Homo sapiens: one gene and its partner. The protein of the gene in region 1 interacts with the protein of each later gene in a pairwise test. Each region holds a gene or a part of one and is shown on either strand. Other genes may lie near its edges.

The links.
Region 2: the proteins of PAK5 (region 1) and PTPN21 interact in binary tests that used the Homo sapiens proteins (3 or more experiments, as listed by UniProt).

What each region holds. Positions count from the first base shown.
Region 1 is NC_000020.11:9,830,408-9,845,792, reverse strand, and holds the start of PAK5 (serine/threonine-protein kinase PAK 5), read left to right. Parts: upstream 1-6,716; 5' UTR 6,717-7,031; intron 7,032-15,385.
Region 2 is NC_000014.9:88,462,724-88,478,304, forward strand, and holds the end of PTPN21 (tyrosine-protein phosphatase non-receptor type 21), read right to left. Parts: intron 11,080-15,581; coding exon 10,942-11,079; intron 9,743-10,941; coding exon 9,521-9,742; intron 7,628-9,520; exon of another isoform or gene 7,328-7,627; coding exon 7,199-7,327; exon of another isoform or gene 7,145-7,198; coding exon of another isoform or gene 7,124-7,144; intron 7,011-7,123; coding exon 6,776-7,010; intron 6,354-6,775; coding exon 6,193-6,353; intron 5,543-6,192; coding exon 5,414-5,542; 3' UTR 3,055-5,413; downstream 1-3,054.

The DNA of each region.
Region 1 (15,385 bases):
GACTATTTTATAGAAATTTCAGTGATTATATAGATCAATTTAGGGAAAATTGATACCTTTGCTATGCTGAGTCTTCTAATCTATGAATATAGTATGCCTCTCCATTTACTTAGGTCTACTTTGACTTATTTCATTTGTATTTTGTAATCGTCATTGTCAGCATACAGATACTGTATATATTTTGTTAAGTTTAAACCTAAGTATTTCATTTTCTTTGGAGCAATTGTAAACGGCATTGTGTTTTAAATTTTATTTTCTGTATGTTCATGATTAGTACACAGAATAAAATTTTGCGTGTGTGTTGATCTTGTATGCTGCAAATTTGCAGAACTCATTTATTATTTCTAAGAGTTATTTGTTAGATTCTTTGGCATTTGATTCCTAGACAATCATGTCATCTGCAAATAGAGACAGTTATTTTTCTTGCCTCATTTCAGTGAGCTAGAATTCAGCTAGAATTTCCATTACTATATTGAGTAAGATTGGTAAGAATAGTCAGGCTTGCCTTGTTCTGCCTCTTAGGGGGAAAGCATTCAATCTTTTCACCTGTAAGTTTGATGTTAGTCAGAGGTTTTTTGTAGTTGCTTTTTATCAAGTTGAGGTAATTCCCCTCTAGTCCTAACTTGCTGAAAGTTTTTATTCATAAACATGTGTTGGGTTTTGTCAAATTTTTTTCTGCATCAATTGATGTGATCATATTACTTTTTTCTTTTTCATTTTTTATTATGGTGAATTACATTATTTTTCCATATTAAATCTGCCCTCCATTCTGGAGAGAAGCACCACTTGACAAAGTATAATTACTTTTATACATTGTAAGACTCAGTTTGGTATCTTTTTTTTCAGGATTTTTGCATCTAAGTGGTAGCACATGTCTGTAATCCCAGCTACTCGGGAGGCTGAAGCAAGAGAATCGCTTGAAGCTGGGAAGCAGAAAATATTTGTTTATAGTTTTGTTTTCTTTCCTACTGAATTTGTTTGGTTTTGTTATCAGGGTAAGAGTTGTTTCATCAAATGATTTGGGAAGTGTTCTCTTCTGTTTTCTTAAGAAAATTGTGAAAAAATGACATTAATTCTTCTTCCAGTAGACTTCTCCAGTAAAACACTCTCACTAAATTATAATTAAACACTTCATATTAAAAAAAGTTTATAGCCAGATACCTAAATAGATAACATACTCTCAATTGCTGATTACAGGTTATTTTTCAAGTTTAAGTCTCTGGATATTTCATTTTGGGGAGCTTTTTAAGTTATGTATTCCATTTTCATCAGTGGTTCCAGGACTATTCAGCTTACGTATTTCATCTTACTTGAGTTTTTGTTAGTGTGTGGTTTTCAGAAATTGTTTATTTACTGTAAGTGGTTGAATTTATGAACACAAAGTTTTTCCAAATATTTACTTAAATTATCCTTTTAATGACTTCGAGATCTGCAGTTTCAGTACCTATTTTATTCCCAATGCTGGTGATTTGTGTCTTCTCTTCATTTTTGTCTAAACGAATAATTTTAATCCAGACTTATTTTAGTTATCTGTTTTCATTCCATTTTCATACTCTGTAAGGCTTTTTTTTAATTAAAAAATTATTTTTAGGAACAAGGTCTTTGTTTTTCAGGCTGGCACTGAACTCATGGGTTTAAGTGATCCTCCCACCTCAGTCTCCTGGGTAGATGGGACTATAGGTGTGTATCCCTGCACCCAGCTTTCTGTAAAATTTTAATATGTTTAAAAGAGAATAATATTTTGGGATATTTTGAAGAGAATAATGGCTTCTTTTTAAAACACATGCATTTATTGTCTAAAATTTCAAGCAATTTTAAGGAATACAGAGAAGTAAACAATCAACCCAAAATCTTTTCATCAAAAAAATCCCTTGGTTTATAATATTCCATAAATCTTCCTGTATAGAAAGAGATAAAAATATAAGGTTATAACAAGTAGGATAAGTTGACAGATATACTTTTTCAAGTATCATCCATATGTGGATGATAGCACAGAAGCTACTTTAAAACTAAATTGTATTTAATCTTATTAAAATTAAATAAGAAAAGAAGCTAAAATGTGCCTGCAGTAATCTCTCAACTTCAGAAAACGGTTTTTTTTCATATAGAGAGATAAGTTTGAAACATATTCCCTTAAAGGTAAGAAAAAAGCATGATGAGATCAGAGGTGGGGTTTTCTATCTATCTGCGGCAACTTTAATAATATACATTGACCACTTGCTGAGGAAATCATTATACTTAAACCTCCTTACAACTCCCTTCTTTCTACCTTCAGATTTTAGTAAGTTATCCAATGATACTGACATTGTCAAGGTTTATATTTATGTTCTGATTTAAAACTGCCAAACACCAGTGGTTTAGTCTTAGATTTATTTTAAAATAAATATGATTATCATTATCACATTTGACCACAGCTTCATCGTTCATGAGATTTATGTTTTAAATTTATCTCTTAGTTGTATAAATTTGATAATGAAGTAGAATATTATAAAGGTTTTTTTCTGCTGTGTATACTGATTTATTGCATTTGAGAACAATTGACTGTTGCCTTGAAAATCTGAAGAACACCAGTGTAGGAAAATAAACATTCTTAGGTCACCCTTTCTTTCCCTCAGAACACCCTCAGGCATTGCTTGATGAGAGTGAAGAAATCTAAATGCACACTGACTTTCTTTTTCTTATATGTAAATTGCCTTTTCTGTCTGGATATTCAGAACATTATTTGTCTTTGAAGTTCTGTAACTTCAGTAGGATATATTTTAGGGTTAATTGTTCCAGGTTGATTCTTTTTTTTCCCCTGAGACAATTGTGTTCTTTTGTTCTGCTGATCTAACACTCTCTATTTCAGGAAACTAACTTTTGTGTTTCTATTACATCTTTGATTATTTTTTTCTCTTCCATTTTATTCTTTTTTTTTTTAACAGCAAAGGTTGTAAAAAGTGGTATTCTGGTAGATATGTAATAACCAGTTGTCTGAAAACAAACAAACAAACAAAACCCTGATTTGTAGCATTTGTCCATTTGTGTGGGGTAAATACTTCCACAGTGGCTGATTTCAAGCTGTTACTGAAAATGGAGTTAGGAAGCAGTACGTATGCCCAATCAGCTCTTGCAAGCTGGTGCAAGCCAGCTCCTGCATGTTACTGGTTGTACATGTGTTGGATCTCCTTTGTTTGTATTTCATAAAAATGGTCTATGATTTGTTTTATACTTATTTGTTAGTAGCTAAGTACTTGTCTATTTATCACTGTGTTTTCAGTGGTTAGTCTGTTTTTTTTTCCTATTCTCTCTTTCTTTCTTTCCTTCTTTCTTTCTTTTTTTTTTTTTTTTTTTTGTAAGACGGAGTCTCCCTCTGTTGCGCCCAGGCTGGAGTGCAGTGGTGCAATCTCGGCTGCAACCTTTGCCTCCCGGGTTCAAGTGATTCTTCTGCCTCAGCCTTCTGAGTAGCTGGGATTACAGGCGCCCACCACCACGCCCGGCTAATTTTTTTGTATTTGTAGTAGAAATGGGTTTCACCATGTTGGCCAAGCTGGTCTTGAACTCCTGACCTCAGTGATCCGCCCACCTTGGCCTCCCAAAGTGCTGAGATTATAGGCGTGAGCCACCACGCCTGGCCCTTAGTCTCTTACCTTTTGAGTGGTTTAATGGCTTTTATTTTTCCCTGAACTCTGCTAGTTTATCTTTCATTTTAGTCTTATTGTCTGTCTTTAAATCCTTATATTTCTTTATGGTGCTTTTAAAAAACATTATTCAGATTATATTGCCTTTCATTCCATTGAAACTCGGGAAAAAATATTTGTCCGAACTTTTTTTTCTGTTTCCTTGGGGGAATTCTTTAGAGACCTATTCTTTATATGCTTTTGTTTATGTTCCTTGGAACATTCTTTTCCACCTCCTATTCTTTCCCTACCTCCACTATCTGAGCAAATGTCCTGCTTCATTTCTAGAATCTATGCTGGTTCCCTTATGGTTGCGGTTCATCTTTCAAGAATTCCAGCCATTTGTAGATGCATAGCCTGGAGAAGGTAAAGAGAATGAGCTGGGTAGTCTGAACCTGGGTTCCAGCATGCTGTCTTACACATCCCTGTCAGCCAATCTACCAAGTTCTCCACCCCTCAGGTTCATCTTGTCACAGTTTTTGGTGTCAACAAGGTTGGTTGACATTAGTTTCTCATGAAATCTTGACTAGTCAGTAGCTCTGTTTTATTGAAAAACACACTTCTATTTACTATCAAACACTTATTCCTACCCCATTACAAATTACAAATACAGATTTTGACAGAGAAAATTATGTCTTAAATGGTAGACAATAAATACATGCCTGCTCAATAAATCATAATTAAACTAGTCATATAAAAAATGCATACAGCCAGATACCTAAATAGATAGTATACTCTCAATGGCTGATTACAGGTTATTTTCCAACTTTTAAATCTTTGAGCCAGAGAGAAAGTCTATTACTTATTCAAAAATAAAGTTTTAAAATCTGTCTGACAAATCAGTAGAGTTCTACTTTGTGTGTTCAAAAGTGCTGTATTCAATAAATACATCAATGTGGTGGACAAAGGAATGTTTTGCCTAAATTCCCCTTAAGTGAAGGATTTGTTACTGCAGCCACAGGGACTACAGCTGACAGAGGCCTTTAGCTGTTGTTACCTGTAAGAATTGCCAGAGCTGCCTGTCTTAAGTTCGTGCCCCTCCTAGGAACAGCCCATGCTCAATGATTGATGTGGATGTAAAGGACTGACTATCTCAGACCAACTCATGGTCATTCTGAAGGATCACCCTAGCTAGTGAGCTCCATAAGGGGCTGACAAAGGCTGCAATTGGCTTGCATCACAGCTTAGCTTCTACCTCTGCCTGCTCCTGCTTCCTGTATCCCTCCCACCCACAGATGTTGGTCCTTAGTCAAATACTGCAGGCTAAACCCTCAAGAAATGGCATTACATATAAAGAAAACCCTTAGGAATTCATGCAATGCAGTATTTACAGAAATAGCATTATTATTCATCTATAATTTTTACCTTGCACGCTTCCAAAATAAATTTGAGGCAGCTAACAATCATCATCATATTTAACTAGCAGAAACAAATGTACAAACACAAACTTTATGTATAACAGGAAGGCTATTTTAAGTGATTAAAGTTCAATATTTCAAATAAAAATTTTAACTGATACTAACCAATGACAAATAAACGATATCTCAGTAAAAATATGTTCTGGCTTTTGCATCTATGTGAGCACACATATAAGAAAGTCAAAAGTAGAAAATATTTATGCATATAGTTGTGGGGGTGACGATGGTGGCAGTGGGTAGGTTGTTAGGGCTGTGTGCAGCTTTGAGAAGGAAGAGATGAGTATGATACACAAGGACATGGGACTACTGAGGGAGAAAAGTAATCATCCATTTATCCTGTGGTTTCTGTTTTGATATGGCCAGTACAATATTAAAGGTACTAAGTGAATGGAAAACAAGCAAGGGGAAATGATAACTACTATACTATTAGCTAGAAAACTGTCTAAGGTCATTGAGTATAATAAGGAACGGAGAGATACAAATCCTTATTTTGTAACCTGCTATCTAGTTATGGGATCAGATTCCATATCCACTACTAGCTCATAAGGGTACTCTTGTGGCAGCTGAAGACAGACAAGAGCGTGGCTTCTTCATTTCCAAGGGTGAAAACTCAGGACTACTTCGTGAATGTCTTTCATTCACTAGAGTCTTGATAATGCTGGAGACTTCAAGAGTCTGGGAGGGCAGTAGGCAACTGGGAAGTTTAAGTTGAACCACAAATATCGTTGCAAACTTCAGCCCAAACATCACTGAACACAAAGGCCTGACATCTCTTGGTACAAAAATGCGCTCTATGTTTGTCATAATCTGTCGGCTTTCTTAACTAGGCAAGCCCAAGCTTGCTATTAGATGTACAATAAACACTTTGATGCCCAGTCTGAGTTTTTGTCCCAGCTCAGGAAAGGCAAGGGGACAGCCAAGGCAGACTGGTTCAGACTTGACCGGGGCAGCTCATCCAGCAACTGGCTTACTAGCCAGCTAGCAAAGTGAGCATGAAAAGGTCCAGGAATCCTTCTTCCCCTGGGCCTTAAATTCGAAATCAGACAGCAGCCAAGGAGAAGCTGGGTGGTCACAGCCTAGCCCCACAAACACTCCTTCCAGGTAAGGCTCAGCAACCCCAGGCTGGAGGAGTCTCTGTGGACACCAGAGACCATTGCTAGGCTGGCGGATTGAAGGATGGCCACTGAGAGGTCACAGATAAGGGGTTCTCTAGATGTTTGCTACTCGGAGTGGTGGGAGGGCCAGCAGCAGCAGCATCACCTGCGAGGTTGTTAGGCTTGCAGAATCTCAGGACCCAGCCAATTGAATCTGAATCTGCATTTTAATTCACAGGCACATGAAAGTTTGAGAATCACCGGTCCAGGTGGTGGCAAAGAGGCCAGCCCACTGTTCTGCTTCTCAGCCCCTCCTCCTCCCCACCTCTGCTAGCCTCTTAAGCAAAACTCAATCCTGCAATGGTCCTGAACAACATTTCTGCAAATCCCGAGTGTTGGGGGAGAGGGCGTGCAGGAGCTGCCCCCGCCGGGGACGACTGGGAGTAAACGTGATTGGATTGGTCGCCTGCTCCAGCTCCCGGCTCCTGGCTCCTGCACCCTGAGTGTAGACACGCCCCCCGACCCTCCCCCTCACCTCCACCCCCGGCCGCCGCTACAGCCTGCCTCCCGCCGGCTGCCACGAAAACCCGGAGCAGCTGCGTACGCTCATGGACAGTCCTCCGAGGGGCGAAGCCGGGCAGCTGGGCATGCTCAGTAGCTGGGGGAGGTTTGGGTGGAGAGTAGAAAGCTGTGGCTCTGCCTCTCACCCCCTCCCGCTGGCCCCCGCCCCCCTTGCCCCTACCCAGCCAGTAGTAGTTCCCCAGCGTGCGCCCGGGGAGACCGGGAACATGGCGCTGGGAGCGCTGTAGCAGCTGAGAAGGGGCTGAGGCACCGCCGCTTCGCTGACAGCCGGCCACCAGGTAGGCAGGCGCGCCTGTCGGGACTGCCTGGGTGGGTATCGGCGAGAGGAGAGGCGCCTGCGGGGATGCGCGCCGCTGGTAACCGGAGCATCTCTCTTTGCCGGGAGAGGATGCGAAGAGGACCACTGTGACAGCGCGATCCTGCATCTCCTAGGAGATGCAAAGGCTAGGGACCTGCTGCCTGGAGGGTAGGGATAGGGGACCGCCCACCCTCAACCCATGCGCTACTATCCAGCCTGGGCTCTCTACCAACCAAATAAAGGATGGTTCCATTTTGCTGGGCGGGAGGGCGTGGAGGAGAACCCCGGATTCCAGCCCTGAGAGCGTGCTGGTACCCCGAACTGCTCGCAAGCCCAGCACCAGTTCTTTGTGTGTATACAGCAGCGCACGCCCTGGGGGTGCCACGGCGCTGCTTTTCCCGAGAAGTGTTGGACATATTGCCAGAGCAGGATTCCCGCATGGTTTTTGTCTTTTGGCAGGTGTGGACTGGAGGATGCAATAGCTGAGCCTTTATGAGGCTGTGTTTTCCTTTGTTATTTGTGTGTGTGTGTGTGTGCGCGCGTGTGTGTGTGCGCGCGCGCCTGGTGGGTTGTAATGGAGAGACAGAGAGAGAACTTCTGCTTGTGGGCACCCTTGTGAGCAGGGCGTGGAAGAGGATCTTGGTTCCAAACTCTTGTCAAAATTGTGTGCCATGTCAGCCTCCTAGAGGGTAAACTTGAGAAGTCCAGGGATCATCACTGCTCAGTTTGGAGGATAAGCGCGATCGCCCTTCTTGAAACCATGTGTGTGTATATGGAGCTTTCAACTCGGGCTGAGTTAATTTGTCAACATTAGATATCAATTAAGGGAACCTGAAACGCTGAGGCTATTTATGGTGGTCTTTTTATGGCCAGAATAATAAACAAAAAGAAAAGTTGGCACAAAGCCAGAGGAAAGTGTCATTGTTAATAGTTGATGACAGCTTGAAAGACTGAACACACTTTTAGGAAAATCAGGAAACCTGGCATTCTACGGAGTTCTACCAAGACATAGCCACAGGGTCTTAGGTAACTCACAAAAATCTTCTAGTGCAACCGCTTCTCTTCTGGGGCTTGGAGGCTGTAGACACTCTTTCTCTTACCTGATATAGATGGACAAGATGCTTTTTAGAAGTCCCTCCTACACTAGAATTCTATGAAATTGACACCTTATAATAACAGCTGTGCCACCTTAGATTTGTGTATCTGTTATATTCAACAGCACAACAACTCAATCTTGGGGAGAAAGATAACCAGGTTAGTTAGGGAGAAAGGTAAATTTAAAGCATGGGTTTATTTTTTGCTTTATAATTTAAAGGATGGGCATCTTAGCATATGAAGTTTGGAGACAGTTTCCTCTGCACTCACACTATTTATTTTTATAGTCTTGTTAGGTGGCGAGAATGAGTCAGTATCATCAAAATGAAGTGGGGGAATACATAAGGAAAATGCATTTAAGTAAATTAAAGCCATAAATGTCCAATCTGATAATACCTTGACTTGGAATACATATGTGCAAGGCAGATGCACTGCTAAATGGAAGCAATATAAGCCAATGGCAAGTTCCTTGGTAACGCTGGCCTTAGACTAAAAACCTAGTGTTCTTCTGTGAGTGGGTAGAGATTGTACTAGGTCTCTGCAGCTTGTTATTTTATTAATAAATGTGAGTTTAATTGAAAATTGATATCTAAGCATTGAATCAATTGATATCTAAGCATTGAAAATCTAGTCTGGCAGTGCCTCTCCACTCTGTCAGGACCTGCTGAAATGCTGTAGGTATGGGAGGCAGGTGTTTGAACTCTGACTCTTCTATGTTTAGCTTTGTGATTCTGGGAAAATTATTTAACTTTCCTAAGCCTCAGTTTCCTCACTTATAGAACAGTCCTCGGAATAGTAAGACTTATCTAGATGAGTAGATGTACGGATTAATCATAATTTAAACCACCAGGAAAATGGTGGTGACTGTTATGAGTAAGAGGGAAATGGATATTTACTGAACCTATGCTATGTGCCCTATATAATGATTCAGGCTCAAACATGTTAATTCCCTTAAATTTCCCAACTATATTAGTTTCCTAGGGCAGTTATAACAAGTTACCAAAAACTGGGTGGCTTAAAACCACAGAAATTTATTCTCTCATGGTTCTGGAGGCTAGAGGTCCAAAATCAAGATGTTGTCAGGGCCATGCACCCTCCAAAACCTCTAAGGGAGGATCCTTGCTTGCCTTTTCCAGCTTCTGGTAGCCCCAGGCATTCCCTGGTTTGTGGCAGCATAACTCCAATCTCTGCCTCTGTATTCACATGGCATCTTCCTCTCTGTCTCTGTCCCTGTGTCCAAATTTCCCTTTTCTTATACGGACATCATTCATATTGGATTTAGGACCTGTTCCTTATTCAATATGACCTCAAATTAACCAGGTTACATTTGCAAATGCCTGATTTCTAAACGTCATATTCACAGGTTCTGGATGGGCATGAATTCTTGGGAGACACTCTTCAGCCCAGTACACCAACATCCCTATGAACTGTGTTTGATGACAACATTAACATTATGTTAGCATAAGAGGTAAAGATAGAGTAGCATGGATTCAGAAAATACTTTAAAGATTATTTAAGGGAACTAACCTATTTGAGGCTTTATATACACAACCATGGTAGGGAAGAGCAGGGTTCAAAAGTACCTCATTTATGCATGTCACTTACCTGGGAGCCAAGACAACCCAGGACCTGGATCTTCTAGAGTATCTCAAACATACTGTGCCCCCAGTTGATTTGTTGATGTTGCCTTCCATCCTTCTTGCTAACCTTCCAAACAAATGCAAAAAAACCAAAATGCATTAAATAACAAAAACAATAATAGCAACAAAGGCAAGCTAACAACTTTCTAGTCCTTCTTAACCTGGTAAATGGCACCACTATCCATCGAGTTGCTTTAACCAGAAACCCAAGAATCACCTTTGACACCTCCTTTCCCTTGACCCTCCACATTTAAAACCATCATGCAGTCTTATAAATGCTATTTTCTCTATAGATCTCTAAATACATCTTGATAAATTATTTCTATCCCCACCACCACCACTATCAAACTGCAAGAGATGATAATCTCTTACCTGGACCACTAGAATAACTTCCTAACAAGACCCCTGGTTCCTTGCCTGGCTCTTCTAATCCTTCATCCAGAGCAGAGAGGATAATGTCAGTTCCCTACATAAAATACCACCCACACACCTGGGACAGATTCCAGAGACTCCTAGAGCCTCTGATACTTGGCCAGCCTCATCTTGTGCATCTCTTCCTCTTGATGCTGTCACACTGACCCTCTGTCTGTTTCTGGAACATCCCCAACCATCTTCCCTCTATATTTTACCAGTCTGGGTCATACTCATCCCTTGGGCTTCCTTGATCTCTCTTCCCCACCGACCCAACTCTCTCATCATCCTTTCACTTTTATTCCACAGCACTTATTCCAGTTTGCAAATGCCTGTTTGTTTGGCTATGTCTGTAAGCTCTATAATGGCCATTTATTTTATGTCTTATATGCAGAAGGTGCTCAATGAACTTTTGGTGAATGAGTGAAGGAACGAATACTCTGCCTCATAGCATTTTCCTGTGCCAACTTCAAGATCTGATTTTTAGAAGGTTTTTCTTTTCTAGTATAGAAAGAGCAATTTAGAACCTTATTCTGACTTCAAAAGGAGAGTATTCTTGGCTTTAACAAATGCATCTTTTAAGAACTGATTTAGGCTAGAAGTTAAGAATTGAGTCAAAATATTTTTTTGGCAACTGAGGTTTTTGTAAAAATACATCAATCAGTCAATAAATATTCTGCAAATATTTATTGCATGTGTATATTTGCCATGCTACACCCTTGGAAGACAATGGTGAGCTAGACTTTCAGTCTTCTGGAAATTAATGGTAAACAATAAATAATAATCATTATGTATAATAATAAATAAATAATACATTTAATTATTTGTTGAGCTTCTGTTATATGCCAGTGTCTCTTCAATTCCTGTCCATAATCATCACTATAACCCTCTAATCTTTCCCAATAACACAGAACCCCACACTTACTAGGAGCACAACAAATATTTTGTGAATTAATAATTTGTTGGTATTATTATTCTGATCTGTTGAAATAGGAAATGTGTGCTTATCTGGGGAAAAAGGTATCTGCACATATATAGAAGAGCATGCAATTGCTTTCTCACCATATCTAGGTGGGCACTGTTTTATTTTAAAAATCATCCTGGACATTATCTCTGGAGGTAAATTAGGAGAGAAATTGCTCTTTATAAGGCGACAAGTTCCTGGTGTGTTTCTGTCAAAATCCTGAATTGTTTTATTTCGTTTAATTGTCTAAATTTGTCCTGTTTAATCCAAGTGAGAAGTGACTTAATGTCTCTCATTCAGAGCCCTTTTTGTAGTTTTGAATAGTAAGACTGAGTGCCCAAGGGAAATGAATGTAGTTCAACAGAGGAACACATGTTATGTTTTAGATTTCTAAAGTGGCTTCAATTTCAGATTTTTATATTAGTCTCATAAAAGGGTGATTTTTAAAAATAAACAGTAAAATAGCATTTAATGCCTATGTTTAAGTAAAGTTTTTAATGTAAGTAACCAAAAATTAGACAGTGTGCCTTGATTTTGTTTAAAAGTGATGGATACACAATGGGATCAATTAAAGCCTAAAGGAACTAGTACAAAATTTCAGTAATGTTTTTGGTTATAAAATACATGTTCAAAAATTGATGGCCACCCAAAATGCCAGTGTTTTACTAACTAAAAAGTAGAATGGAAAATGATTCTATTCATGAATTCACTAATATATAAATTGAGTGGGAAAAACAGGAAACATACATAAAATACTCGTGAATAATAAGAAATATATAAAAGTCTTTGTGGAAAGCTATACAATTTTACTCAAACCAATAAACTGAGGAGCAAACAAAGAAAGACATACCTTATGCTTTGGTAGAAAGATGAATATTATGAAACGGTTATTTTTCCCAGATCAATTATATAGTTTTATTACATTGGGATTTGGGAGAACCTTACAAAATGATTCTAACATCCATCTGGAAGAATCACCATATAAAAATAAAAGAAAACTTTTCAAAAGAATAGTAGTGGTGGTGGGGGAGGTGAGTGGTGGTGGTAAGATGGGAGGTGGTGGTACATACAGGTGGTGTGGAGAGTGGAGTTCTAGGGGTGGTAAAGGTGGGGGGAAGTTTGATGGTGGAGACGAATACATGAAGGTGGTGGGATGAGGTGGTATGGATGGGGGTGGTGGGTGGTAGATGTGGGTGGTTGGGGGGTGAAGGTAGGTAGATGGAAGTGGTAGTGGTAATGGGCGCCATTGTTGAAACAAAAGTAAATTTGATCATTGGCTACAATCATTATAGCAATGTAGTACTGGTGTAAGAATTGATTAATAGCTCAGTGGAATAGAAGAGCCTGGAAACAGATTTAGGTCATTCTTAGAACCAGAAATATGACGAAGAAGGCATTATGAAACAGTGAGGAGTATTTGACAAAACGTCATGGAAATTGGCTAAGTGTATAGAAAGCATTCAACTAAGAACCTCTGTTTACATGACCCTCCAAATGAAATTCCACATAAATTGATAAGTTTATATGCAAGGTGGAAAACAAAGCTAGAATAAAATATTTAACTAATTTTAGGGGAAGTACTTTTTAAATATAAAATCAATGGGAAGAATCACAAAGCAAAATAAAGATTTGAATATATTTTAAACTCTCATATGCAGCAATGCATGCATTTTAAACAGAACAGAATCATGGAAAACAATATTGACACCAAACATGACATGACAGTTCATGATAGCCCTGAGGAACTCTTGCAAATCAGTGAGTAAACAATAGCACCCCAATAGAATTGTCCAAATATCTGAATGCATAATTCAAAAGGAAAAAATAAAAGACCAATGCACACGTTTAATAAATGTTATTACTATTAATCACAGAAATGCAAATTAAAATAACAATGAGGTGGTGTGTTTTATGTATTAAAAAAGTAAAAAATACAAAAAATAAACTTAATACTGGCAAGGATGCAGTGAGAAGGACAATCTCTTTCATTACTTGTGGTGGGAGGGTTACATAATACAAGCTTCCTACAGAGAAGTTTAAAAATACTTATCAAAATGTCTGCCAGGCACGGTGGCTCATGCCTATAACACCAGCACTTTGGGAGGCCAAGGCAGGTGAATCACTTGAGGCCAGGAGTTTGAGACCACCCTGGCCAACATGGGAAAACCCCATCTCTACTAAAATACAAAAAAATAGCTGGGTGTGGTGGCACACTCCTGTAATCTCAACTTCTTGGGAGGCTGAGGCAAGAGAATCACTTGAACCTGAGAGGTGGAGTTTGCAGTAAGCCGAGATCGCGTTACTGCACTCCAGGCTTGGTGACAGAGTGATACTCTGTCACCATTAAAAAAAAGAAAGTTGTCAAAACTTTTAAAAGTTTAAATTATTTGACACACTATTCCTCTTGTTTTTTATTTTATGTTTTCTTTTGTCTTTGGTAAGGAAGTAGATGCAGGTAAAATTGTGTATTATAATATATTTCATAGTAATAAAAATTAAAAAGAACCTATATAACTAGAACTTGGGAGCTTGGTAAAGGTATTTAAGGTCCCAAGATAACAGACTATTATATAGGTATTAAAATTAATTATTTTGAAGATTATATAATGACGTGAAACAAACTTCACCACAATTTTAAGTGGAAAAAAACAAAATGCACTACTACATATATTGTATTGTTAATATGTGTTTTGTGAAATGAAAACATCATGCAGGTATATTTAAAAAAACAGAACAAAATTAAAAAGTTAGGCAATCTCTGGGTGGTGGAAATATGGATGGCTTTTATTTTGTTACACTTTTCCAAATTTTAAAAAATGTAGTAGGCCGGGCACGGTGGCTCACACCTGTAATCTCACCACTTTGGGAACTCGAGGTGGGTGGATCACTTGAGCTCAGGAGTTTGACACCAGGCTGAGCAACATGGCAAAACCCCATCACTACAAAAAATACAAAAGTTAGCTGAGCGTGGTGGCGCACGCCTCTGATTTCAGCTACTCAGGAGGCTGAGGTGGAAGGAATGTCTGAGCCCATGAAGTGGAGGTTGCAGTGAGCCAAGATCGCACCACTGCACTCCAGCCTGGGCGACAGAGTGAGGCCCTGCCTTGGAAAAAAAAATTAGTCAATGATGTGTTGTTTTATGAATCAGAATTAAAAAATCCACTATTTTACAAATAAGCAGTGATATACATTTAGGTTGTAATTATTCATTTATGTAACAAACATTCATTGATTATCTCTTGTGTCAGGGGCTCTGCCAAGTGTATCAGCAGTGACTCTTAGATTGCATGCAAATGAAAGAAACTCTGCCTAACTCCAGCAAAAGGAATTTACTAGAAGGATATTAGGTAGCTAAAAGAATTGCCAGGAATGTGGCGGGGGATGGGGAATCCCAAACACACGCACGCGCGCACACACACACACACCCCCCAAAACAGCTTGGAAGCAGATGAAGCTAGTCAGTTCCAGGTCTAGATATCAGGCACTTTGGAAACAGACTCCAGCCAAGAATGACTTGTTCAGAGCTTGACCACAGTCCACTGGCTGCTATGCTTGGGGTTCTTCCCCCACACCCAGCCCACTGGGCATGGGATAGGAGGGGGGGTGCCTTGATTAGTAGGCCCACTACCCCTTTCCAATGAAAGAAACACAAGAGATGTGATGGGTGCTAAAAAGCCAAAACCAAACCAAACCAAACCAAAAAAAGACAACAGAAATGCCCATTACCCTAGGACTTAGGGGTAAACAGGGTTGAATACCACTCATCCCTCTCTTTGCATCCCATAGGAAACATTTGCTATGACATGGGAGTTTAACTTAAGGTTCATGGTCTAATGTTCACTGTGATGTGCATCATTGAAGGTGCAATGTGGGTGCCCCACACAGAAGGTACATTTTCCTCTTGGAGCCAGTAGTGACATGTTGGGAAGAGTGTGGATTTTCAGCCTGATCCTTATATACCGGCAGGAATTTTGAAAGAAAGGTCCCATTTTCTCAGGTAAGAGAAAATCCTAGAAAGGTATAATCTGAAAGAAACAATGAAGCAGAAGCAAGAGGTATAATATGGAAATAGATCAGGCACCAACACAGGTCTAGCCTTCTTTTCTGAATGATCTTACATTCAGCAAGCCCAACAGTCATGTTTGAGTTTAGTTCACCATGAATACCAGCCTCTTGGTTCAATTAACTTTGGTTGATAAAGTTATTATTAACTAAATATTAAAA
Region 2 (15,581 bases), on another chromosome or scaffold:
ATTTGACACACCACAAAGTCATTTAATGAAAGTTAAGGAATAATGATCAAAACATTTATCTAGTTAATAAGTAATTTTCAGAAATTTGGAACAGTACGCAAGCCATACTATTTCTGAAGTTCTACAGAAGTTCAAACACAATGATTCCTTTCTTGTCATCCGTTTGTCCCTATTTATAATATTAAAGCATAACTCAAAAGTATATGGTTACTATCCCTTTAGTAACCCATAAAATGTTGGAAGGTGTTTAGATGTTCTTTAGATTTTTGAAAATTAAGTATTTTTTAGAATACACATGGGTAATGTCAACATTTTTGGAAATATGATGTGCAGACAGACCTTAATTTTACTTGTATGTGACCTAGGGATACCCTCTATATAATAGCATTTGCCTTGGAACTGCTGCTCCTTCAGCTGGGTGCTGAAGACCTTCACCTTCCTTCTTGGGCCATCCCTTACTTCCCATTTCAAGCCAGTAATATTAAGGAGGACATATAAGTGGCAACAGGAAAGGTAGGGGACAGTTTTGCCAATTTGCCCTCCTTCACCCCCTGCCCCACTTCAGACAGTTTCATTAGCAAGATCCCTGCTCACATTATAAGGCCCATTCTGTTCCTTACCCATGCACAGCTCAAGTTTCTGCAACAAACGCTGGCATACGTTCTGAAAAGTTTCCCATAAAACAGACACTTAACTTCAGTTGCTTTCTGAGTCTTGGTTGCCACTGCCCGACAGGAGTATTTATTCTCTGATCTCACCAGCAGGGTGCAGTAGGGAGAAAAGTTGCCCTATAATTTCTTGGAGTACAGAACACATACAGATACGGTTTGGTTCTGTACCACTGCTTACCTTTCAGGGCCCCTATGGTTTCAGTAAGCTTTGAGGGCACAAACTAAGAAGGCTAACACCAAGAGTATTGTTTGCATGGGTAAATATTACTAAAAGTCAACATACAAGTGAACTTTTAGAGCATATTTTTTATTTGGGAACTACCTGAAATACCCAGAAAACTATGCCACCACTTTAACAATCCAAGGACTTCAAATGTTTTCTAAAACTCTCTCTACCCAAGTAGACATGCAAACTTTGATCTGAATTTCCTGACATTTCCTTATTTTTCTGTTTTTGTTTTGTTTTTTTTTGAGACAGAGTCTTGCTCTGTCACCCAAGCTGGAGTGCAGAGGCGAGATCTCGGCTCACTGCAACCTCTGCCTCCTGGGTTCAAGCAATTCTCCTGCCTCAGCCTCCCTGAGTAGCTGGACACGTGCCACCATGCCCAGCTAAGTTTTGTATTTTTAGTAGAGACGGGGTTTCACCATGTTGGCCAGGCTGGTCTCATACTCCTGACATCGTGATCCACCCGCCTCGGCCTCCCAAAGTGCTGGGATTTACAGGGGTGAGCCACCACGACCGGCCTTCCTCATTTTTCTATAAATAATTTTAGATAGTAGGGTAAATGGAGTTCTTATTTCCAGGAATTTGAAAAGCTCATATTCTTTTGAGAAATGTTTTCCCAGGCAAATTTCTAATGCAGCTATTCCTCTACTTTTGAAATGTCCATCCCTCAGCTCAAAAGAAAGCACCCTGCAATTTAGATTCTTTTTTTAAAAAATTAAGTTTAAACTGGAAAGGGATAGTTTTAGCTTGTTCCACATGAAATCTTGCTGATAAGCAAATTCAACTACATTTCTATCCAAAAGAGTTCCTTTAAAAAGTCTGACTTACAGTCAGGCATGGTAGCTCATGCCTGTAATCCCAGCACTTTGGGAGGCCGATGCTGGCAGATCCCCTGAGGTCAGGAGTTCGAGACCAGCCTGGCCAACATGGTGAAACCCCATCTCTACTAAAAATTAAAAATTAGCCGGGCGTAATGGCGCACATCTGTAATCCCAGCTACTTGGGAGGCCAAGGCAGGAGAATTGCTTGAACCCAGAAGGTGGAGGTTTCAGTAAGCCGAGATCGTGCCACTGCACTCCAGCCTGGGTGACAGAACGAAACTCCGTCTCAAAAAAGAAAAAAAAAGTCTTATTTACAATAATTTCCTGTTTCCATTTCTTTATGCAAATCTCAAATAATAAACCTGCTCTTGGCAAGCTGCAGCTAATCTCCAGTTTATATTACTGTACATAGTTGTATATTTAAATTTTCTTAATATTGTGAACATTTAACATCTCAACCCTTCTGAAATGACTGATGGTGAAAGCTTCACAGAAAAGCTGGCCACGTCATGCTGTCGCCACTCAGTCCCACAACACCACACTCTCCTCCCTCCTCCTCCTGTTTCTGGCTAGACATTGCTTTCTGGACGTTTCTAAGGAAGCACAGGCCCAGCTTCTAATTCGACCAAAGGGTTTTAAAGTCTAAGTTCTAGCATTTTCTGAATGCTTCACAGTAGATGTTCCAGAAGAAATTAATGACTACAATAAGCATTCCAAATGATATTCTAAAATGAGGACTTTCTGGCTGGACACAGTGGCTCACGCCTGTAATCCCAGCACTTTGGGAGGCCGAGGCAGACAGATCACTTGAGGTCAGGAGTTGGAGACCAGCCTGGCCAACATGGTGAAACCCCGTCTCCACTAAAAATACAAAAATTAGCCGGGCATAGTGGTGCATGCCTGTAATCCCAGCTACTCAGGAGGCTGAGGCAGGAGAATCACTCGAACCCAGGAGGCAGAGGTTGCAGTGAGCCGAGATCATGCCACTGCACTGTAGCCTGGGCAATAGAGCAAGACTCCGTCTCAAAAATAAAAAATAAAATGAGTACTTTCTGTGCTCAAAACTACCAACTAAGCTAAACTATTTCATCAAAAGACCCCACTAATCAGGAAAACTGATACCAGAGATACCAAAATTGATCAGTGGAAAACAGTGGTTTATAACTCTACGTTTTGTGGAAGTGCACATTTTGATAATTCTTATTAAAAGACACTAAGATACATGAAGCATTGTGTAAGTTTGGCAGACATTAATATACTCATTTCAGAGGCAGTAAACCTATGAACCCTTAATGTTCTAGTTTGCTCTTGAAAATGATACTATTTCAAAGCTCAGTAATGTGGATAGATTTTTATTCAGAAATCCTTTCATATTCACTAACTGCAATTAAAAGTTTAAAATTACATGGCTCTTAGGAATGACGCCAAACATGCAACATTTTAAGAGTAATATTAAACAGTAATTTTGCCCTCAGAAGTTTACTTATCAAATTATTACAACAGGAACACAAATAGACCACATATTACTCTTTAATTAGATTTGTTTTACAATATGTTCTTGTCAACGAGCTATGTCAAACTGTTTGTTTAAACCTGACAGAAAAGCATTTTCACAAAAACGTACCATGGAGAGGGAGGGGGAGGGGAAGAAGCACTTTTTCTAGAGATGGAAAATAGTTCCAGTAAAAAGTTCTTATTCCTTTCTTCTAAGGAGCTCGTTCTGAATATTTTCACTTAGTTCTACTGTTCTTTAAACAGGACTTTAAAAAGAATTTTGTATTTACAAAATTTACATTTTGTTCCTACAAAATGTAATTTTTTAATTTTGTAAAATAAAAATGTAAAATTTTAATTTTGTTCCTACATGAGAAGTGTGCGTACTTTCAATTAGTTTTCATTAATATCTTCTGAGTTTTCCTCTTAGGTGGTTGGTTTCTGGGTAAGGCAGAGTTAGGCTGGTGCACACACTATTTAGGAAGTCCTGTCTCGTGGCTGACAACATACATGTAGTGCTCAAGGAAGTGAGTTAAGGAGTGACATGGGAATCAAAATGATGCCTAGAATAGTGTAATTTGGGAAACAGCCCTAGATTTGACATTTTGGAAGTTCACTGTAAGAAGAGACCCCAAAAAGAAGGAAAAGGGAAAGGGTTCCTCAGCTAAATATCCCACTCATCCATGCCTACTCAGCGGTCACTGTGACAAGGCCATCTTAATCGGGGCCAGAGATGACACTCTCCCCCTGTAACTCAGCCTGGCTCTGTCTATTGGGATGTGCCTAAATGGGATGGGTGAGGGGGCACTAAACAGCTAACACTGGCCAGGGAATTATTAAGGAGCTAAAATGCAAGTACCTCTTGAATACCACAGCAATCTCTGTGCACAAATTTGGACTGTACTTTTTGGGAGAAGAGGTGAAAACTATTATTAACTATTCCCTTCCTTCAACCAAAAGGAAAAATACGCCTCTTTAAGGCTTCTTTTAATGATACTATAATGCTGAATTTATTTATGAAAAAGAAACAATACAGGTTGAGGTGGGAAAAGCCCCAAGGAAACGGAGTAAGTCACTGGCGGTCACAGGACTTGAATTCCCTGGGGACAGTGCTGTGGGGTCCCCTGCTCGCCATCCCAGCACCTCAGTCTGAGTATAGATAATACTGCATTTTTGTAAAGACGAAGGCATCCTGCATTTACCATCACACTCCACCTACTCTTGTCCTAGTCATCTTACATACTCTTAGTCCTTAATCTCTCCCAAAACGCTTCTCAGCGCCCATTGTTATTGTGTCATCTACAAAGCAACACATATATTAAAACTCAGATTTGTTTTTAACAAAAAAGTGCTTAAAACCACCCTAGGCAATTGTTTTTCACTTCATTTTCAACCAATAAAATCAAATTCATTTAGATCTATGAATAATACTGAAAAAATAATGCTTATTCTCTTACATTTTAAATAATGTGCCTTCATCCTCAACTTTACATTAACTGACTCATTTCAGTATCTAAATGAATTGAGCTCTCATTTGAAAAACAGAAGGTACAACTATATAGAATTTTTAGGATAAAAAATGTTCTGGATAGAAAAATCCTTTTGATGTTTCAAAATAACACAGATTCTCAGTATAGTTTTCAGTTTGGCAACTAAACCATTATTAAGTACCCAAGGTTTTTAAAAAATAACAAAAGATAATAACATGATTTTTAAATACAAAGTTATATAGGAGCAACTCATATCTGTGGATCATCCTTACACAAAGTTGTTTCTCACTAGAAAAATCCCTAAATATTTGTCATAAAATAAAAACTCCATTATCAAAAATTAGTTTAAGATAGAAATCTATGCACTTTAATGATTGCCAGAATTGCCCAGCATAGCTTCAGTAAAATAGAGAATTGTCTAGAAAATACAATCTCCAAAATGTGTGCAAGTACTGCAAACCGGACAGACCGGGGCAGGGCAAGGCCCTTGAAACCAAGTCCTCCTTGAGCACCTTTCCCAGGTTAGAAACCCCTCTTCAGCCTGTGCTTCGCACGTTTCCTTCAGCGTGCCGCCATTCAGACTGCGCCACTTACGTCCCAGTGCCACGCTGCGTGGATCAAGTGTCAACGGGAAAGTATGAGTTAGGCAAGCGCTTTTTTTTTAAGCTGTAAACGCTTCACATGACTGGCCCCGTAAGAAATTGTGGGAGCTTAGATGAGCCTGGAGCTTTTCAGGAACTGGATGAGGACTCTGTACACAAATGTGTACTGGCAGAGAGTCTGCACCAGCATCATTCTCTGTTGCCTCAGCATGTCCAGCACTCTCGGGATGTCCAGCACCTAGGTTGAGAGAAACGGTAATGAAGATAATGTGTTCCCCTGGGGAGACAGAAAGGATGGGAGGACACGAGTGTCCTGGCAGAAACCTGGTTGGGAGATGGACAGTCTCTTTTCCACCTTAGCGTCTTCTAGAAATAAGCCATGATTGCCTACTTCTGATTTTCTGATTAGTTTTAGCTATAAATAGAATGTCCATGCAGACTATTTCTTCAACATTCCCCAGGTGTAGCTCACTGACTTTGTATGGTTGGACATAATTACCATGTCTCACTAAATACCAAAATTATACAAAAACATAGTGTGCTAAGTGCTATCAGTATCTAGCTATTTCCCTCAAGGGCTCTGGGCAGCATGAATCATCCTTGAAATGTAAACAGAAAAAGAATTCTGAGCTCAAATTTGAAAAACCCTGGGCAAGTAAAACAAAATTAAACAGCTTTATTTATCGTATGACTTCTTAGTCTTTAATATGCTAATTGGTACTGAGACTCTCCAAGAAGACACAGCCTTTTGCAGGGAACATTAGTAACATCTTGAGGCCACCACAGTCCAAGGAAATGTGCGCAAAAAGAGCTATTAAGTCACTATGTCCCTCTCTTCCCCAGCCTCATTTCCACCCAAAAAGGCCAGGTGATCATAAGCGCCATCACCTCATTGTGTTCCAGGCAGGCGATCATGATCTCCGACAAAATCACCACGCCAGTCCTTCCTACCCCAGCACTGCAGTGGACCAACAACGGAGGGTTGGGGCTTTGGGGATCACTTGTGCTATTTGTATGGCGTCGAACAGACTGGATCTCTTCAAGATATGCTGTGGAAAATCAATGAAATAGAAAAGTACTCAAGGATCAAGGCGTATCACATTGTTGACTCAATCTTCATATTCTCTCCACTGATTAAGAGGACTGCAGATAAAGAGCACTGGGTGCCAGTGAACCAAACCCAACCACAAAGGGACAGTGTGACCCTGAGCAAGTCACTACCTCTGTCCACTTTCTGATCTACAAAATGAAATGACGGAGATACTGAGTCAGCTGTGGCATTCTACTCACTACCAAATCATAATTTATAAACCTCGTTAACCCTCCCCAAAACACTTGTATTCTTTATGTTAAAACAAGTCCGAAGCTTATATGAGATAACATAAAGGAAATATTTCGGAAACATAAATGTTCCTCTCTGTTTAACACCTCCAGAGGCAGCTGTCCTCGGAACAAAGTTAAAGTCACTCACATAAAAATCCCTTGAGGTCTTCTGGACAGCCATGTTCAGGCCAGTCTGTGTATTGGAGGTGCCAGACGGTCCTCTCTTGCCCAGTAAGGAGGTGCTTCATCTTCAGGCCTGTGGTGGCATAGCAGCCAGAGTCTGTGCGGAACCGGGTCGTGATCTTAAACCTTCCATAGGTGACAGTGTTGTGCCTGGAACCAAGTCGTGGCCAGTACCTAAAGCTCTTCTCCCTTCCACCCTCCTGTTAAAGATGAGCATGGTTAAATGACTCGAGATCCGGCAATGGATGCCTTTCTCACATAGACGGCACATCTGAAACAGAACCACAACCCTACCCTGCCTTTTTCTCCACAGGTCAGGATTCCAGATGATTAACATTAACTGTTCTTCAGAGGCTGAGAAAATCACTTAAGAGAAATAAGTACCTACCTCTTCTGCTGTCACCATTGCTATAATTGCAATTCCCTGTTCCCATACCATCTGCCAAAAATCTTGACAGGTATTCTGTAATGGTCCCTGTGTGGCAATATAATCCCATTCGATTCCACTGACAGAGACCTGGGATTAGAAAAGGTTAAAAAAATTGATGTGTGGGTATAATATACATAGGTATGTATGCATGCATTCATGGTAGTACTAAAAAAGTTTTTTTAAAAAAGTAAAAAGTAAAAAAGTAGTAAACTGGATTATTCAGCAGAATAAGGAAAGACTTTTCATCTTTTCCCTTGTGAATACAATTTGCATTACTGACATTTTTATAAACTTAGGTACTGTGAATATACATAATATCTATGCAACCTGTTTAACCTTGCTGAATGTCAGTTCTCATTTATACAATAAAGATACTGCCTACCGTCATAGGGTCATTGTGAGGACTGAGTCAGTATCTATGGTACCTGGCACATAACTCAATAAGTAGCTGTTATTGCAGACATGGTGCCTCTTCTTTAAAAAAAACCTTCCTACTTAAGATAGTCTCACCTCTGAACTTCTGAGTCAAGGTCACTCTCCACAATAATATTAAGTTTCCACTTCAGATTTAACTTCCTTGAGAGCAGTCTAATACAACAGTAATTACTAGATTTGTGGTTAAGAGACCTGGGTTAAATCTTGGCTTCACCAATATTGAGTGACGACAATAACTGTCTCCAAACACTCACTAAACGTAAAACCCAGTGCCAAGCCTTGTGCCACACGCACTCTCACTCAGGGCTGCCAGCCCCCTAGTCACCGCTCCACATCGTCTCACTGAGCACCCAGTGGCTGCCACTGTGGATGAGTACCAGGTTATAACAGTGAATAAACACTAGGGAGGAGGAGGGGACTAGTGAGAAGCTGGCAGGGTAGGTGTCATCATTTATTTATTTCCATGTAAGTGAGATGAGGTCCCACAACACAGCTTATAAAGTGAGGTCCCACCTCATTTTAGATCTAGGCGTCAGACCCAGGTCTATCAAATTCTTTCCTCTATTCTGCAAGTGGCTGCTGAAGATTTTGAAATATCACTACAGAACTACAGTATCATTCATTCTTATCCATCTAGTCATGAGAGACTGGATGAGTTATTTCAAGGAAATGCTCGGTTTTTAAGTAAATTATGCTGATATTATATTTAAAAACAAAATAGTATGTGCATAGATTCCCAAAAGCCATCAAGGGGTACTGGCATTCACAGGCAGACTGCCAGTCTCCAGAAAGCCTTGGTGTCAGCTTGTTCCCTTCTCAAATAATACTTGCAAACTAAAGAAAAAAACCACCACCTGTCCACAGTTACTCATTCACTCACCATGAGATTTCTCCTTCCCAAAATAAAGAATTGAATGTGGCCAGCATGAACAAAGGGTACAATGAGGAAGAGGGAACATCTGGCTTTATTCCATCATGTGTTGTGAATCATCATTTTGTCCATTTTCATAGGAGTGATATTACCCCAGATAAGGTGCCAAGAACATACACTAGGGAAGGACAGCCTCTTAAATACATGGGACTGGGAAGACTGGATATCCATAAGCAGAAAAGTAAAACTGGACCCCCTATCTCTCACCATAAACATTACCCCAGTTTAATGGCATTATACTGGTTCCAGGAAAAAAGCACTTCTTCAAAGAAAAAAAATGATACTTAAAAATTATTATAAAGAGTATGTAAAGAGAACAGATGGCACCTTGGTAAGTTGAAAGCTTTTGTGAACACCATCAAAAAGCCCAGACACTTTTGTTACATAAAAATGCATGTCAGTATGTGATGAGGAAAAACTAGCAATTCAGTGGCTCCCAGAATTTATGAGCTAAAAAGAGGTCTTCAGATTTAGAAGGACAAAGTTCTAAAGCCAGGCAACACAAGGTCAAGGCTGTAGGGAGCCATGATCATACCACTGCACTCCACCTGTCTGGGCGACAGAGCAAGACTCTATCTCAAAAAAGGCAAAAGAAAAAAAAAAAAGCCGGGCAAATAAGTGCGCCCTGAGTCCTGGTAACAGTGTTGGGGGCAGAGTGGTTTCGCACATGGAGAGTAGACATGACTTTGGCTCTGTCTGATAGACGCTTTTTATCTAGCACTGGTATGTGGATTTCCCAGCTTGCAGTACAGTTTGTCACAAATGTTTAAAACTAGGGTGTTTATCTAAAACAATACAATAAAAATAAATTTTAAAATATCTGAATTCTAAACAGACATGAATACAATTCTTACCATTCTTGTAACTTAACTGAAACTGCATGTGCTGTTGATTACTTGAGGCGTTCCTCTCACCTTAATATGTGATGCGTTGATGTAACCAGTGTTGTTTTCTTTAGTTGGGACCAACTCCACTCTCACATCATCATAAGGAAGAACATCTTGGAATCGATTTCTTTCTGCATTTTCAGGGAGTCGTGCTGTTGAGCACTCCCCATCAACTAGCCGTTTCTTAAGAATTCTTTCATATTCTGTGAATACCATTCCTTGTTCTAATCGTTGTTCCAGAATTTTACACTATAAAACAGAATATGTGTAATAACATGAATACAGCCACACGTCGTGGCTACCTTTTGACTGTATATTTGAAATCTTGTTTTCTGCTTCAAATCTAGCACTGTATAATATTGAAAATTCTAGGTTGGGCACGGTGTCTCATGCCTGTAATCCCTGCACTTTGGGAGGCCAAGGAGGGAGGATCACTTGAGCCTAGGAGTTCAGGACCAGCCTGAGAAACACAGTGAGACCCCGTCTCTGCAAAAAATTAAAAAACGAGCCAGGTGTGGTGGTGCATGCCTGTGGTCCCATCTACTTGGGAGGATGAGGCAGGAGGATTGCTTGAGCCCAGGAGGTTGAGGCTGCAGTGAACCATGAGAACCTATCTCAAAAAAACCAAACCAAAACCAAAACAGAAACAAAATTCTAGGTGAAAATGAAGTTAAAATTTTAAAAAGCCACAACAACAAGAGTTAAAAGAACAAAAGACAATCATTTTGGTGAGAAATATAATGCAAACTTTTGTTTAAAGTTGAAAATTGGCCTAAAGAAATTTGTTGAATTCATTTTCTCTAGATCTGTGGTCAATTTTGTGACCCCTAATAGATGGAATTCTCCTGGGGAACAGTAAGTAAATCTAGGGGACGGATAATGAGTTCCAACAGCTATGAACAAATGTTTCCATTTTATGTCATACGATATATAAAAGACTAAAGCAGTAGGAAATATTCGAAACTACCTCCAGGATCCCGTTGTAAAGCAAATGTATGCCTATCTGATTTTGATGTAATAAAACCTCATAGAAAATACACCTCAGGCACAAAGGAAGTTTTGAAAAATTGAGAAACTACTCTCGAGATAAACTTTCAGTATAATAAAAGTCAATGTCTGCTGCTTTTCCCCTGTATGCTCCTGTATTTTTGTAGATTTCTTCTCACTTTAAGGCCATCAAAATCAAGACTGCTCCAAAAGGCCAGGAGAAGGTAAAAAAGAACACTGAGAAACAAACAAACAAAAAATCAGCATTCGAACCTGAAATTATCTATTAAGACATTAGCTATACATTTGCCCCAATTTTGAGGCCCATATTACAAAATTCCTTAACACTCATTTATTATTAAATTGTGTTAGAAAATTCACCAAAATCTCATGAAGGCATTTGCGTAGTATTTACCGGTTGTTCCAGAGAAGGCACAAAGCCCTGTGTGTCCCATACATACCCTTTCATCATTCGTTGCTCTGGTAGCCACTTCCTTTCCTTCATCAGGCAGAGGCACTCGAGATAGGGAGAGTCCATTTAGGGCAGCCAGTTTAAGAGGACCAATTTTTTTTGCATCTACTCGAGTCTTTTTCATTCCCTGTAAAAGGATTTATATGTATATATGAAATATACACAAATACAACCCCTGTGAAAAGAAGTTTCAATGCACTGAAGACCAGGAACACACAGAGGGAGTGTTCTCCTTTGCCAATAAACCCAGAAAGATTACACTCCTTCACACACCACTTGTTTAACAAACATTAGTAGGAAGACATTCCTTTCAAGGCCAAAGCCCTGATAAAGTCTTCCAGATAGAAGGTTTTGAAACACTATTGGTTACAAAGTTCTGTTGTAATGAAAGGTGAGGCTCCAGGCAGACTGCATTCCTTTTAAAACAAGACAGACGTAACAAATCAGCTGAAGTCCAAAAAAAAAAAAAAAAAAAAAAAACAAAAGCTTTAAATGCAATCAATTGACTATAGTAAGCTTTTATAAATTTTTTTTTTGAGGGTCTCACTCTGTCACCCAGGCTGGATGGAATGCAGGGGCACCATCATAGCTCACTGCAGCCTCAACCTCCAGTCTCAAGCAATCCCACCTGAACCTCCCGAGTACCTGGGACTACCAGCACATGCCACCATGCCCAACTAATCTTTGTGTGTTTTGTAGAGATGGGGTCTCACTATGTTGCCCAGGCTGGTCTCAAACAACTGAACTTAAGCAGTGTTGGCCTCCCAAAGTGCTTGAGATTACAGGCGTGTGCCACCATGCCCGGACAGCTTTTTATAATTTTTAAAATATATAAATTCTTTAAGTCATTCTGAAAAATTAAATGGTTTCTGCAGCAGCCCCCTTTGTGTGTTAAGCCCCCTCCTCATATGCTACTCTGCATTCTAGTGCAGACTTAGATGACCCGGGTTAGATCACGCTACCTCTCAGAACGGCTACGTTTTTAAACAAGGAAAATAAAACAGGGCTAAAATCTCCATCATGACACCAGGAGGATAGGACAGAAGAGAAAGCATCAACAAAATCTTGTCTCCTGAAATCAAGTGTTTCCTAAAATTATTATTAGAGCATGATTTTCCTCTCTGAGAATAGTAAGCATAAGAACACTAAGTTGACCAGGTGCGGGGGATCACGCCTGTAATCCTAGCACTTTGGGAGGCCGAGGTCAGGAGATTGAGACCATCCTGGCCAATATGGTGAAACCCCGTCTCTACTAAAAATACAAAAATTAGCTGGGCGTGGTGGCACATGCCTGTAATCCCAGCTACTCGGGAGGCTGAGGCAGGAGAAAGGCTTGAACCTGGGAGGTGGAGATTACAGTGAGCTGAGATCGTGCCACTGCACTCCAGCCTGGAGGCAGAGTGAGACTCCGTCTCCAAAAAAAAAAAGAACACTAAGTTTCGTTGGATATACTACACTTCCTTGGATGATATCAATATAATGAGTAGCCCCAACTGGAAAATAATGGTTCTGCCCTGTAAACAAAATCCGTGTTATTCCAGCTCTCTCAGCCTGTAACAGGCCATGAAGCCCCATGATAATGGTGCAAGAACAGAGGGAAAAGGCAACTTGGTGAGAGAGGAAAAAAATCCTAAAAGATTGCTGCTGTAATTGGAGACTGTGATTGGTACCTAACTCAATAAGCTAAGTGGATTAATTTTTAATTTTATAATTAATATTTGATCATGAGCTCCCCACATAATGCAGTCTAGACTATAAACAGCAGAGGCCTGGGTTCACATCTGGCCTCTAACTGACCAACTTCTTTCAGGCAAGTCACCTTTCCTCTGTAAGCCTCACCTAGACAGAAAGAGACAGATATATCCAGACACAGGCATACAGACTAAACACTTCCTGCTTAGGCTGAAATTTAATGATTCTAACGTGCAGAAAACAGTGATGTGCTGGTAATATTTAACAACAGGCTCTTGGAAGGAAGTTTTGATCGGTGTTTGCCCATATCCATGGTGTAAATACTCCCATCACAGCCAATTTCAAACTGTTAATGTCACATCAATTGGCTCACAAGGTTCCTGAACATTTAAGTCGGCTCTTGCTAGTCAATATGAACTAGCTCTGGCACTTCTCTGCCTGAAAATGACTCAAAATATCCCACACTGGGACACGCTGGATAAAGCTGATTGGCTGTGAGGTCAGTTCAAAAGCCAGTATTGGAAGAATGTTGTATGTAGTCAAAACTAGCCTTGAATATGCCTTAATTAGCCCTTAGAATATAAGCACAGGATTTTAATGCATACCCTGCACAGTGATTTCTTATGTGAGAACCACTGCACTAAAGGGTACAACAAAAAGAAAATCTTTATGTAGATATATGAGCACCCAAACCAGTCTGCCTTTAAGATAACAATCAGGTTGCTGGAGGTGGAGATGGGTGGAGAATTCTAAAATCATTCCTACTTGTCTACAGTTTATTTCACTGTTTTTAATACTAAACCTCCATAACCTTAATTCACATTAGGAAATTTGTTGTAACGATTAAGATAATGGCAACCCCATGTTACTATGAAAGGTCAGAGGGTACAATAGGGAATTGGCCTCTTCCACTCTTGAAAGCCATTAAGTTAAATATATGATGCCACCTCACAGTAATGTTAATATTGACTAATCTCTTTCAATGTGCCAGAACCTCATTTTTATCCCCCCAACAACTCTCTGGGGTCCTCTCATTTACAAATGTAAAAACTGAGTCACAGATTAAATAGCTTGTCTGAGGTCACATGGCTGCCTCTTTTACAAGGTAATCAGTGTCAAAACAAATAAAAGCAAATCTTTGGTTAAAATCAGTTACACTGAATCATGTAATTCAGGAGGCATTTTTTCATGCCTAACTGCATGTGGGACATAATGCCACGAAGCAGGCAGCGAAGGGATGACCGTCCTCATGATCTGAGGTTATCTGATGTGGAAGCTGAGGTTCTGACGCATGAAGGGTCCTGACCGTGGTCACAGAGAACTAACAAATGGCAGGCTCTAGACTCAGCCCCAACGTTCTTAACTTGTAGGACCTTTGCTCTTTCCTCGTGACCACAGCTGCCATACCCATTCCTTAAGTAGAATCCTTTAAGCAAAAAGGACCAAAAACATAATCCAATCACATAATTTTACTAGTATTGTGGTCTTAAAAGTCAATGGGAGAGAAAAGTTCTTTTAAGAGAACCAAATTGATCAAAGTCCTCAGATTTAACTGAACCTACCAGACCCCATTCAAAACATACAGGGATAAAATAGGCCTGAGTACTGAGCTGTACTCAGATAGCATTTGGGGAAAGTACGTGAGTCACACATAAAAACAGACCGTTCTTAATGCAATGGGAAGGGTGTTAACTATAAAAGGACCCTGTCCAGCTGGCTCAGGGATTCAGGTAGAGTTACTTTGGAAAATCTACCCACACCTTATCCTGAATCACTGCTCCCTACACTCTTAAATCTGTGTCCACTGAAGGCATTGGCCTTTACTGTTCAGGGATGTGAGTTATGTTGCATACTTGTGAAAAATTTAAAAATCAACTTAAAATTCAAACCCAAAACTTATTAAAAGAAAGCAAATTTAGGCCAGGTGTGGTGGCTCACACCTGTAATCCCAGCACTTTGGGAGGCTGAGGCAGCCAGATCACAAGGCAGGGGAATCGCTTGAACCCAGGAGGCAGAGGTTGCAGTGAACTGAGATCACACCACTGCACTCCAGCCTGGGCAACAGGGCAAGACTGTTCTAAAAAAAAAAAAAAAAAAAAAAAAGCAAATTTAAATCTGTGGTACTTTTTTTGTTAAGTAGTTTTTGTCTATGTACATTAATCTCTTTCATAAGTACTATAATAGTGTGCGTTTTTTCCTGTTTAGCAAGATGTTTGCAGCATCTTAAAGGATGTCATACACTAGGCCAGAACCACACTTGAGATGAGCCGTCCTGTCGGAGTTTGCAGTTTAGCAGCGATGGGGGGAGGAGAACCCTAGTTGCCAGGACACTGGAAGCCAACAGGAGATAGGATGGAGGCCCTAATCAAGTTAGCCTGGCTCAAGTGCAGGGCATGAGGAGTGGAGATGTGGGCCAGGAAGAGCTGGAAGCCTGAGCACTGCAACAAAATCACTTCGGTGGACACACTTCATGACAAGGCCGCAGATGCTTAGTCCCAGGTTAAGGACTGAGTTTAAAAGTTTCAGTGAAAGACTAGCAAGGCTTCAACAAGCAATTATGACTTAATAGAACATATACAGTATACTTCAATGCAGAACATACATCTACAGTGTAGATGATAACAGAATGGGCTTCTAAGTATGGGTTTAAAATTCCAGTTCAGTCACTCACTAGTCATGTGACCTTGGAAAAGTTAGTTAATATCTAAGTCTGTTTCTTCATCTGTAAAACAGGCATAACAATAGGCTTACTGTAAATAGGCCACAAAAGTAGAGGAAATGCTTGGCCCATGGCAAATGCTCCAAGGATGGTAGCTAGAGATGATGCTACTATGCTTTTTTATATTTTGCTTCAAAGTAGGTAAAAAGTGCTTAATTCATATTTATTTATTAGGCTGAATATTAAAGAACTGCATCTTCTACCGGGGACTTTCCTTA